Linked DNA regions of Homo sapiens: all the other regions are linked to region 3. Evidence: fine-mapped expression QTL. A gene starts in region 3. Each other region holds a variant in brackets. All regions are shown on one strand. Distances are between the middles of the regions.

The links. PIP is the estimated chance that this variant, and not a neighbour inherited with it, causes the effect.
Region 1: its variant is the best candidate, but not a certain one, in a credible set for the expression of BEX4 in whole blood (TOPMed, PIP 0.56).
Region 2: its variant is the best candidate, but not a certain one, in a credible set for the expression of BEX4 in whole blood (TOPMed, PIP 0.51).

Annotation. Positions count from the first base shown.
Region 1 is chrX:103,504,476-103,508,718 of GRCh38, reverse strand. All of the region lies in intron 2 of RAB40A (RAB40A, member RAS oncogene family), which reads left to right. All of the region lies in intron 5 of LL0XNC01-250H12.3 (a long non-coding RNA gene), which reads right to left. Among named protein-coding and RNA genes, the nearest start is that of RAB40A, 13 kb to the left of the region's middle. The variant G/A (reference allele first, on the strand shown) is at 2,401.
Region 2 is chrX:103,489,197-103,493,439 of GRCh38, reverse strand. The region is part of intron 5 of LL0XNC01-250H12.3 (a long non-coding RNA gene); the gene reads right to left. It also overlaps a transcript of RAB40A not described here. Among named protein-coding and RNA genes, the nearest start is that of RAB40A, 28 kb to the left of the region's middle. The variant G/A (reference allele first, on the strand shown) is at 1,959.
Region 3 is chrX:103,212,849-103,217,091 of GRCh38, reverse strand. BEX4 (brain expressed X-linked 4) reads right to left here and starts at 1,984. Exons shown (of 3, transcript NM_001080425.4): 1 at 1,854-1,984; 2 at 1,328-1,410; 3 at 1-943. The coding sequence starts at 938. The coding sequence ends at 576.

The DNA.
Region 1 (4,243 bases), 290 kb before region 3:
TATTGAACAGTATTTATGAATTATGAAACACTAAAGAATGTAGAGAACATTCTGTTTCTAAAACTTTGAACTGAAGGCATATGAGAGAGATTTGCTTCTTTTATCTGGATGTCTGTGTTCTCGTCTGGAGAAACAATGAGAAATGATTTTTCATAATGACTACCTAAGCCCTGAGGCTCAGCCAGCCCCTACTGCTGTGTTCCAACATTTAAAGGACCATTGAAGTCCCACTTCATGTCATATTCTCTGGGAAAGTTTTCTCATTAACCCCTCATACAGCTCAGTAAGAATGGTATGGTCAGTCCCATTTCACAGATGACCAACCTCAGGCTTTCAGAGCCTAAGTCACCTCCCCAGGTAAGTGGCAGGATTGGAATGAGGTCCCATCCTTCACCCTCCCTAGGAGACCCTGAGCACCTCCCCTTTAGAAGATGGGCTTCCAGGGCTTGAGAAATGGTCAGATTCCACTCCCCTGCTATTGTGGCCCCACAGGTCCTTACTCTACAACCCCTCTGGGTGATGAGGAAGACAGAGGAGGTGAAATCCTGTGCTTTGTGCCAAGAGACCTGGGTGTAGACCTAGTGTGTAAAAACCCCACTAAGGGCTGTATTAAAACAAAGAAGAAAACATTTGTAAACTACATCTCAGATATTGGGTTAGTATCCCTGATTTGTGAAACATACTTGGTAACAAAGCAATTGGCAATGATTTTAACAGAAAATTCAAATAAGTATATACATGAACAATAAACATTAAAAAATACAAAAACCTGCAGACCTGAGTGTGTACTATTCTAGGGATGACAGACTCCTTGGGGTCAAGGGGTGGGAGCTGGGCCAGTGAGAGGTGCAGTTTAAATTTGATTTGTGGTGAGTGGACTGAGGCAGAAGCTCAGGTGTTGGCCTTGGGACAGGTGAACTGGAGAGAAGGCAAGTAACATGCCCTGAACTACTGTAAGCAAATGCACTCTATATTTCATCTGCTTTTACCCTAACAACCATTTAACCCATCATTCTGATAATTATTCAAATCAGGAAACTAAGTTTAAGGACAGTTTATGTAATTTAGAGAGAAAACTTTTTAATCTCCTGATCAGCAGTTAACTTTGGAATTACTTAAGGGTTTTTTTTCAGTTGTTATTTTCATTTTGTCTTGATGCCTCCATAACTCTGAGTGCTCTAATCTCCTTCAACGCTGGCAGTATCTACTCCGCAGGTGTTTTTTAATGTTTTTTCCTTTTAAATATGACCTGTATAATGTTTAGGTCCCATTAATAAAATTTAAAACACTTTCCAAAGGAAAAAAAACCACTAAAGACTGTATTAAAACAAGGGAGAAAACATATGTAAACTACATCTCAGATACTGGGTTAGTAGCTGTGATTTGTGAAACATACTTGGTAACAAAACAATTGGCAATGATTTGAACAGAAAATTTAAATAAGTAAATACATGAACAATAAACATTAAAAAATACAAAAACCTGCAGCCATAAAAAGGAATGAGATTATGTCCTTTCCAGGGACATGGATGAAGCTGGAAGCCATCATCCTCAGCAAACTAACACAGGAACAGAAAACCAAACACCACATGTTCTCACTCATAAGTGGGAGCTGAACACTGAGAACACATGGACAGAGAGAGGAACATCACACACCGGGGCTTGTTGGGGGGTGGGGGGTGAGGGGAGGGAACTTAGAGGATGGGTCAATAGGTGCAGCAAACCACCGTGGCACACGTATACCTATGTAACAAACCTGCACGTTCTGCACATGTATCCCATTTTTTTAGAAGAAATAAAATTAAAAAAAATTACAAAAACCACAAGAACTAACAAGATGCAAATATTTTTAAATCCTGAGAATTTATAATGACAAGATGCAAAAAATGAGGACTATGATTGTACTTTTGGAGAAGACTGTGTGTGAAGGTGAATGTGTTGATGTGCACCTCACCTACAGGGGCACATCTGGAGAGTGTGCACTATTCTAGGGACAACAGACCCCTTGGGGTCAAGGGATGGGAGTTGGGCCAGTGAGAGGTGCAGTTTAAATTTGATTTGTGAATATACTCTTGTATAGTTTTTGAAGTTTCATATTTGAGAATAAAAGTATTTTAGTGAATATTTGAACACACAAGATACTTTAAGTAAGGAGTTTAGGGTTTTTAAAAATTTAACTGGCAAGTAAAGAATTGGCAATGATCTATTCATTTGTCGTAAAATATGTTGGATTATGTTTTAAATAGATCTGTTTGGATTTAAATTTTATTCCCCAAGGACTTAAATCATATATTTTTTTAAAAGCATGTCAGTTTTTTAAAACCTTTGTGAAAAAAGACAAAGTTTAAACATTATATTACAAACTAAGATTAAAATATAAAGCTATTATAATTAATAATG[G/A]ACACTGGAAACTCAGAAGGGGGAGGTGGGAGTAAGGGAGGGAAGGGAGTAAGGGATGAAAAATCACCTACTGGGTACAATGTAAACTATTTGGGTGAAGGGTACACTGAAAGTCCAGACTTCACCACTATAAAATTGATCCTTATAACTAAAACCACTTGTACTCCTGAAGCTATTAAAAATTTTTTTAATTGAGATCTAAAGAAACAAGCTATTGTAATTAAGAGAATGTAGAATTGGTGTAAGGATAGAAACAACAGGCCAATGGACTTTATTAATAGAGTCAAGAAATAGACCCAATCCATATGTGGTCATTTTCACTTATGACACAGGTGACAGTGCAGTGAAGGGAGAAGGATGATATTTTAAGTATGCTACCTAAATTAGATACGTACAAGAATTGATTTCAGGTAGATTGTCAGTCTAAATGCAAAAGTAAAAGAATAACCTATAACAATGGAGGAAAATATTTTTATGTAGTTGGGGTGGCAAATAATCACTAGACAAAAAACTGTTAATCCCAAAGGAAAAAATAATAATAAATTGAGCTACATTATAATTAAAGATTGTCTTTCAAAACATACTCTTAAGAAAGAAAATATTGAAATACAGAGTGAAAGATTTTATATATACAGTGATTCAATTTTTTGGAAACAAGGAGAAAAGTAGAAAATGAGCAAAAGAAGTAAACAGGCATTTTACAATATAAGAATCCCATACGACAGCTGCACGTATAAAAAGGCGCTTAACGTTTTTAGTTTTTAGGACAATGCAAATTAAAATTGTCATGAGATACTACAGTAACCCCATGGACTAAAAAAAAGAGTAAGGGGCAAATAGAACCATTATATACTATTACTGAAAGTAAATTGGTGAGAACAGTTTGGGAAATCATTTGGCAATATCTGCTAAAGCTAACTATATGCATACCTATGAGCCAGCAATTCCAATCTTTGATATACTCAACAGAATCGTGTACATATACCCACTAAAGACAGGCACAAAACTGTATGTAGTAGTACTATAACATTAGTCAAACTGTGGGCATAACCCAAATATCATCCAACAGATAACTTGTAGTATTCATAAAATGAAATACTCTACCACAATTAGAATGCTCATTTTAATGTTGCCATATGCAAAATCATGGATATATCTCACAAGGATAATATTAAGCAAAACAAAGCAGAAACAAAAAAGTATAATTTCAGGTAAATAAAATATGAAAAGTTCGTAAACAGGCAAATCTCTAGTGTTAGAAGTTAATGTAGTTTACTTTTGGAGGTATAATGACTTGTAAGGGCATAAAGGAAGCTCCTGAAGTGAAGATAATGTTCTATTTCTTTCCCTTTTTTACTAGTAAATTCTGCTTTTATTATTAAAAGTTCTTGTAAACATAAGTGTCTCTTCAATGATATAAAAATTTCCCCTTCTTTAAGATTAAATATAAAACATTAATTAAAATATTCAAGGCAATGAAGTTAAATTCTAATGCCTAGCTGGGTGTGGTGGCTCACGCCTGGAATCCCAGCACTTTGGGAGGCTGAGGCGGGTGGATCTCATGAGGCCAGGAGTTCAAGACCAGCCTGGCCAACATGGTGAAACCCCATCTCTACTAAAAATATAATAATTAGTCGGGTGTGGTGGCGCATGCCTATAATCCCAGGTACTCAGTACGCTGAGGCACGAGAATCGCTTGAACCTGGGAGGCGGAGGTTGCAGTGAGCTGAGATTGTACCACTGCACTCCAGCCTGGGCGTCAGAGCAAGACTGTCCAAAAAATAAAATAAAATAAAATAAAAATATATATATATTCTGATGCCTTTCTGTAGTCAATGAAATG
Region 2 (4,243 bases), 280 kb before region 3:
AATTGAATTGTTTGTAACACAAAGGATAAATGCTTGAGGGGATGGATACCTAATTTTTAATGATGTGATTATTACACATTCCCTACCTGTACCAAAATCTCATGTATCCCCAAAAATATATATGCCTATTATGTACCCACAAAAATTAAAAATAAAAGATTTTAAAACCCTCAATTATGAAGATCATTGCACAACTCTATACATTTACTAAAAATCACAAAATTCTATCTTCAAAAGCATGCATTTTATTGTCCATAAATTATACTACAAGAAAGCCGTTTAAAAATATGATATTGCCCTGGTCTTCTGTTGTACCACAGTAGTGACCAAACTTTTTCATACAAAGGCTGTGATGTACATCTTTTATATAAATGTGAATGCATGTAAAACGGTAGCTGTATCCCAGCCCTGCTGACTCTTTGTCATATGTTCCTCCAAGGATTTTCCCCTCCTAACACTATCCCACATGTTACTTCGGGTTTTACTCGGGTGTAAAGTTTGATTTTCATCTGATCACTTCCACATGTTCCAACTGTGGCAATGGCTTGAGAGTAGGTCTACAACAAAGTATAGGGCATTTACTGTCTAACAGGATGTCATTACTATTACTTTCTTCACTCCCCTGTGTGTTTTCTTGCATGACTTCACTTAGGGAGTCTAAATAGCACTACCTTGATGAGTGTCAGTGTGGCAATATTTATCAAAAACCTACATATGGACACACTGTTTGCACAAACAATTTCCCTTGAACAAGTTTATCTTCAGAATGTAAGGAAGGATGTGGATAAGGATATGGTAAAAAGAACTGCTATTCTGATAATTCCCTTCCTTTACTTCTGGGCCTTGTGAAGCCTGAAAGAACCAGTCCTTCAAGATAAATCCTGGGTGTTTAACTGGGCCTAAATTCAAATTAGAGCCAAGTGGCCATTTGCTGAGTAGAGGTCACACATGACTTCGAGTTCCCAGAAAACCTGAAAGTCTGCTTAACTTTGGGACTTTCATAGCTGCCTGTTCCTTTTTATGGTGCTTGAACCAACCAATAAGCTTTCACCTATGTCAACCAATCAGAACTAAGCAAGTTGGAATCCTTCATTTGCATAAGTTGACCTGAGTGGGAACCTGGGTGAGAATTTTCTTCATAAAAGACAAACCTTCCCTTTGTCCTCTGGAACACACCTTCATTTTATACTGAAGGCTACATCTCCCCGATTTGCAAACTATTCACTGGAATAAAGTCTCTTTCCTCTAAATTCCTTTTCAGAGAACTTTTGTTCTCAGCCTGAATTTAGGAAGGGAGACCAAATGAGATGCAAAGCCATGAAGGAAAAGAAGGAAGCAGAGGAAAATGTGGTTGTCATCACACACACAATCACGCCAGCACATACACAATCACACACACACACACACACACATTTATACATGGACCAGGCTCTTTTTATCACAATACTAGTATTCTTCTATGACAGTTTGGTGAGTTCCAAGAGGACACATTTGGCTCACCAGTCCAAACAGCCACAGGAACTGTGCCCGGAACTGTGCCCTTCAGCGGAGCACATACTTTGAAAAGATGCCATCGACACAGTGTTGACATTAGGGAGTATCAGAACACTCTGAATAACATGGAGTTCTGAAAATTATGTTACATCCACAGCATGAAATTGTAGGTAAGCAATAAAATGAGTTACAATGAAGACAATGATGAGAGAGAATTTTTTGCCTATCAGATTAGCTACCATGCCCATTATTTCAATGTGTGTAGAAACAGGCACTTTCATACTGTGATGTTAGTGTTACTGAGCAATGGGCTTGGTCACCAATGCACATAGAAGCCAATACTATGGCACTAGCTTTTGAGGAAAGAAAAAGCTTTATTGCAAGGTCGACCAGCAAGGAGACAGGACCAGCAACACTCAAATCTGTTTCCTCGAGCTGGGGTCTGAAGGCAGAGAGTAACTATG[G/A]GGGACATAGGGAAATGCAACCAGGCATGATCTGATTGGATCATGCAAAGAAGTGGTGCCAAGTCCTTGGCTTTTAAGTTTGTACTGGGAAAAAAACAGGGAACCACTCACTTCTCATTTTGGTCCTCATTTCTCAATCTGAATACTTAGATTCCACATGTGGTTGACATTTTCTGTTCTGGCCAGTTCCAGGTTCACCAATCAGGCATACTTGGTTCATCTGGGCATGCTCAGGTTATATGACTTGCAACCTGGGGATCCACTGCATCTAAAAAACAACTCATCACTTTGTTACAAAGTCAAAGCATATTGAACGGTTCTGTGGTTACATTAGGAATGTAAATTAGTAGTAGTATTTTGAACCATTATGTTAATATAAAATGTTCTAATTTCCAGGGTTTTGAAAGGACTCTTCAGGAGCTTATAAAGAAATGCTTTAAAAGATATCTGCATATATAAAAGCTGGTGTTAAGTATACTATTGTCTGTAATAGAAACTATATTAAAAGGAATTAAATTTTCACCACTAGAGTACTGGGAAAATAAAGTTTAGGGCATCATATGATGAAACACCAACTCTATACAAAAAATTGAAATTGAATTTGAAAGATGGTCATAGTAAAGGCAAACACAGGTTACAAAAGTCCTAAGTAGTATGGCCGGGTGCAGTGGCTGACATCTGTAATCCCAGCACTTTGGAAGACGGAGGTGAGCGGATCCCTTGAGCTCAGGATTTCGAGACCAGTTTGGGTAACATGGTGAAATCCTGTCTCTACAAAAAATATAAAAATTAGTCAGGGGTGGCCGGGCGCGGTGGCTCACGCCTGTAATTCCAGCACTTTGGGAGGCCGAGGCGGGCAGATCACGAGGTCAGGAGATTGAGACCATCCTGGCGAACACGGTGAAACCCTGTCTCTACTAAAAATACACACACAAAAAATTAGCCGGGCGTGGTGGTAGGCGCCTGTAGTCCCAGCTACTCCGGAGGCTGAGGCAGGAGAATGGCGTGAACCCGGGGGACCGAGCTTGCAGTGAACCGAGATGGCGCCACTGCACTCCAGCCTGGGAGACAGTGAGACTCCGTCTCAAAAAAAAAAAAAAAAAATTCGTTAGGGGTGGTGGCTCACACCTGTAGTCCCAGCTACTTGGGAGGCTGTGGCTGGAGGATCGCTCAAGCCTGGGAGGCAGAGGTTGCAGTGAGCTGTGATTGCACCACTGCACTCCAGCCTGGGTGACGAGAAAAACCCCACAAAAGTCAGAAGTAGTTCTGTATCTATTTTTGCTTGTATAGGTCTATTGCTATATATCCATAGGTCTGAAAGCATAAAAATAAAAATGATTTTTTTTATTCCTCTCAAATATAGCTTTCTATTTAGCATAGTAAGAGGCTGGACTTTCTGTTTGGCCATCAGTATCCCTGAACACTGGATATACTTCTGTTCCACCCAGACTTATAGAAAGCTCTGTGGGGTGGGCTTGGGCCACAACCCCTTCCTCCCACTTTCCTGCTCCCGGATGTTCAAGCTGCAGTTTAGGCTTCTGTCACGAGGGGGCACTAACATATCACCATTATCAGACTGCAAAGCAATATATACAATGAGCAAAAAGGTGGGAATTGAACAGTGAGATCACATGGACACAGGAAGGGGAATATCACACTCTGGGGACTGTTGTGGGGTGGGGGGAGGGGGGAGGGATAGCATTGGGAGATATACCTAATGCTAGATGACGAGTTAGTGGGTGCAGCGCACCAGCATGGCACATGTATACATATGTAACTAACCTGCACATTGTGCACATGTACCCTAAAACTTTAATAAAAAAAAAATTAAAAAAAAAAAAAAGAAATACCATACCTCCCTTAAAACACAGCTTGTGAACCTATTTTCAAAATTTTCTGTCTGAAAAAACTGACAGATGCAAAAGAACACTAAATAAATATACTCTGGGGGCATCCATACTATGAAACACCAGGTAGCTCTAGCACACATTGGGAGCCACCGGCTGGCATAGGACAGCACAGGGGCAGGCGTAAGGTGACTAAGAAATGATGAGGGAGGTGGAACTGAGTCTGGGTGGCTGTGTCCACAGTGTCCCAGAGAGGGGATGACTGAAAGTGGGTGGAGAAGGTCTGGGAAGCCTGTACAGGAGTGGGGTAACGGAGGGCAAACTGCCTGCTCTCTGGGAGGGAGGGACCCCTCTACAGTGTGGACACCTCAACCTACCCTGAGGAAGGAAAAGATAAATCAGTGAATGCGATGAGATTCTTGGAGCACCATAATGCAA
Region 3 (4,243 bases):
TGGTACACATCAGAATTACTTAAGAGAGTTTGTTAAAAATGGAGATTCTGGAGCCCCACTCTGTGAGTCTGGACGATAGGTCCTACATTTTTAAATGCCCCTGCCTGCCCCCAAGGTGTTTTTATACAGATGGTAGACTCACTCTGAAAAACACTAGAACATACATTCTTAAAATATCAAACATTGAATTCTGGGTATGATCATTCTTTTTTGGTCAGGGACAAGAAAAAAACTGTCAAAGACAACTGAGATTTTGAGTCCAGGTAGCCGGAGGAGGAAAAGTAATACTTACAAAAATAAGGACTGGAATGAAAAAGGAAGATGATGGAATACAGACTGCTTTTTGAACTGCTTTATGCATTTCATATTATGAAAAGAGTATTTTTCCTAAAATAGGTGAATTGCCATGCTGACCGTAACTTTTAGGCTGAGACAAAACAATATTCAATTAGAATTCTAATTTCCATTAGAAACTGGTAAGTGTAAACCCCAAAAGGCTTACAGAAAAAGTAAATCACAAAAATACAAGCTTGTAAAGCAGTGTTCACATTAACCTCAGCGAAAACTTTTAGGATTCAAGGTATGAGGCAAAAGTCATAATGGTTGTCAGGTTCAGGAGTTTGGAAGCGCATATAGTGCCTCATCTGCTGTTCCCTAGTCTTTCTCTTGATTTCCATCATCTGCCCTACAAACCTTTCTACATCATCTCTCGCTTCATTGTGCTCAATATGCCTATTAGGTATGGCCCATCGAAAATTAGGGACAAGTCGCCTAACTCGCCCCCGCCTGATATTTCCTCCAGGCTTCTGGCCTTCACCCCCTCCCAAATGGCGGGATTCTTCTTCATTCTGCGTGGGGGCCTGCTCCCCTCCTTCGTTTTCTTGTTGGGCATTTTCCCCGTTGAGATTGTTTGCCGCTAGTTCCTCTTTGGACTCCATTACTCCTAGGAGACAAGAGAGAGAAAATGGGCTGAATTCTTGGTGGACTGATAAGCACTGAGGACAGAGGCCCTACTAGGCACCTTTTAAAATTCAGAGCCCTGGACTTGACTTTATACTCTAACATTTCATTTTTTTCCACCTGAGAAGCCAGTATGCCCTGTGGGGTGCCCTCAATCCGAGCCCCTCCCTTCCGCAAAGCCCACCATTTTCCCTGTAGATCCATCTCCAGGCTTCCGCAGGCAGCAAAATGGAGGACGAGGATGGCGTGTGGGAAGGGGAGGGTTGCATGGGGTAGAGGGGGGCGAGGGTGAAGGCATGGATTAGGGTCTCAGACTGGGCTTTCCTCACGTTCCGGCCCCCGCCTCACCACCGACCCTCGCACCGACCTGGGCCTATCCTTGCAGTCTCCTCCTCCGGATTCTTGACGCGAGGTGCGCCGCCGCGACACTTAGCCCCGCAGACCTGCAGACTGCCGGGGTGGGGGAAGTGGGGGCTGCTGCAGCAGAACGCTAGCTAGGAACTACCGCCATCCGGCCCCTCCCCCGCCCCGCCCCGAGGCCCTGGCCCTGGCCCTGGCCCTGGCCCTCCTCGCCACCCTCGCCCCCCGCCTCAGCCGCCCCGCCCCGCAAGCTGACCACCATTTTCTGCACCAAGAAGTGCGGGGCAGGGGTGTCGGAAAAGCTTGCGCTGATGGCGTAGGCAGGTGTTTCCGAAGGGTCGTAGCCCCAGGACCGCCGGCTCCCTCCGGGCCGGGCACCTCTCCGCTCAAGGAAGGCTCGCGGGCCCGCCGCGGGGCCCGGGGGCTGCATCGCGGACCGATTGCTTCTCCGCACGGCTCCCCCGGGGTGGGCATCCGCAGGCCGGAGCCACTCCCTCACACCAACCCCAGGGACCCCCCGCCGGGTTCCTTACCTGCTCCCCCTCCGCTTCCTAATTTCGGGGCCGCCCCTGGCCCACACGTCCTCAGGGCCACCGGGAGCAGGTACCACCGCCGAGAATGGAACGAGCCACGACGGCTCTGACGCCAGAGCGAGACAACACTCAGTGTTGGCCGGTCACGTGGGGCTGTTGTCATCGCCAACGGCTCCGCCCCCGTCCCACGCCCCCTCCTGCAGCCCGGAGTCAGGCGGGGCTTTCGGGTCAGCCCCTATCCTCATCCGGAGTCTCTTTTAGTATCTCCAGACTGGCCGGCCCTTCCACTCTCCTGTCTTTGTGTATTCTTGGGACTTCCTCTGCCTCCCCAAGAGGGAAGCTGTCTTCTCAGGGAGCTGTTGGCCATTCCCACTTCTGTGGGGACTTGCCTCTCCCTGTCCTGGGCTCCCAGGATTTTCCCCACATCTCCCAACCAGGACGCGGGCGCAGAATTTAAAGGGGTGCAAAATTCCTCAGCAGTCAAGAAAAATAACATTTTAATGCAACATTTTAAAAAACAATTATTGCAAGAAAATTTATGATGAGCAAGATGTCAAAAATTTAAATAAAGAGAGCATCAGTCCCGCCCACCCCAATGGCAAACTGTGGTACTTGTTACCAATGCTCATCCTTTTCTCCACACCAGAACGTTTGGGGGGGGACAGGAAATGAGTCAAGGACAGTGGATTTTTTTTCTAATTCTTCTTAATACCTTTCTGTTCTGTTCCTTTTTTTGGGGGGTGGGGCAGAGTCTCGCTCTGTCGCCCAGGCTGGAGTGCAGTGGCGCGATCTCGGCTCACTGCAAGCTCCGCCTCCCGGGCTCACGCCATTCTCCTGCCTCAGCCTCCCGAGTAGCTGGGACTACAGGCGCCCGCCACCACGCCCGGCTAATTTTTTGTATTTTTAGTAGAGACGGGGTTTCACCGTGTTAGCCAGGATGGTCTGGATTTCCTGACCTCGTGATCCGCCCGCCTCGGCCTCCCAAAGTGCTGGGATTACAGGCGTGAGCGCCCGGCCCCTTTTTTGTTTAAGAAACAGTCTTTATAGTTTAACTTTATCTTAACTTTAATGGAAAATTTCGAACATTTGGAAAAATGGAATAGTATAATGCAAACCCCATGTACTAGTCCTCACTCAGATTCCACAGTTAACAACTCATGGCCAATCTTATTTCGTCTTTATCTTACCCGCTTCCCAACCTTAAAATTATTTCTGAAGCAAATTCTAGACATAATATCACTTTAGGCATAAATATTTCAAAGTATGTATCTACAAGATAAGGGTTTTCTTCTTTTTAGCATATAACCACAATACTGTTGTCACATTTAATAATTCACAATTCCTTAATATCATTTTATGTCTAATCTGTGTTCAAATACCCAATTGTATTATAGTTTTTTTTAACAGTTTGTTTGAATCAAGATACAAATAAGATATGCGCATTTTGATTGGTTGCCAAATTTCCTAAATTTCTTTTAATCTGTGGGTTTTCATTTTTTAATTTTTTCTTTAATTATTGATGAAATAGTCATTTGTTCTGTATTTTCCTACAGTCTGGATCTCAGTGGTGTCATTAACACATTATCTCTTTACTCTGTGGTTCCTATAAGATGGTAACTAATTCTAGAAAAGCATCCTGGAATTTGGGTTCAATTTCAATTCAAGTTTGTCCAAGGGAAAGCAAAGACTCTTTCTGTTTTCCTCTTTTTGGGATTTTAGCTGAAATATTTCTATAAAGAGACCCTTCCTATTTTAGGTCGGGCTCCCTAGAAGCAGAACTTGGAACAGAGATCCTTATGAATGTAGTTTCTTGTAATGCTCTCTCAGGTTAAAGGAAGTAAAGGCAGCAGGACAGGGCTGGGGAGCAGGGCAGTGATGAAGAATGGGGTTTAACTAGAGATTAAGTTTAGTTAATCGCACCTGAAAACTCTGAAGCACACACAAGTCATCCCACGTTGACAGTAAGTCACTGGCTTTTTGTAGCTCAGCGTCAGTCACAGATCAAAGTCTGTAGGTGGAGCAGAGCATAGTCTCTGGAGCAAGGTGGCTCCCATTTGGCAGAGAACAATTCCCTGGAGAAGAGGTAAAATGTGAGTTGTATGGCTCAGGCCTGTAATCCCAGCAATTTGGGGGGCTGAGGTAGGAGGATTGCTTGAGCCCAGGAGTTTGAGACCAGCCTGGGCAACATAGGGAGAACCCCATCTCCATACACACACACACACACACACACACACACACACGCATACACACACACAAATTTAGCTGGGTGTGGTGGCACGCAACTTTGGTCCCGCCTACTTGAGAAGCTAAGGAGGGAGAATTGCTTGAGCCCGGGAGGTCAAGGCTACAGTGAGCTATGACAGCACCACTGCACTCCAGCCTGGACAACA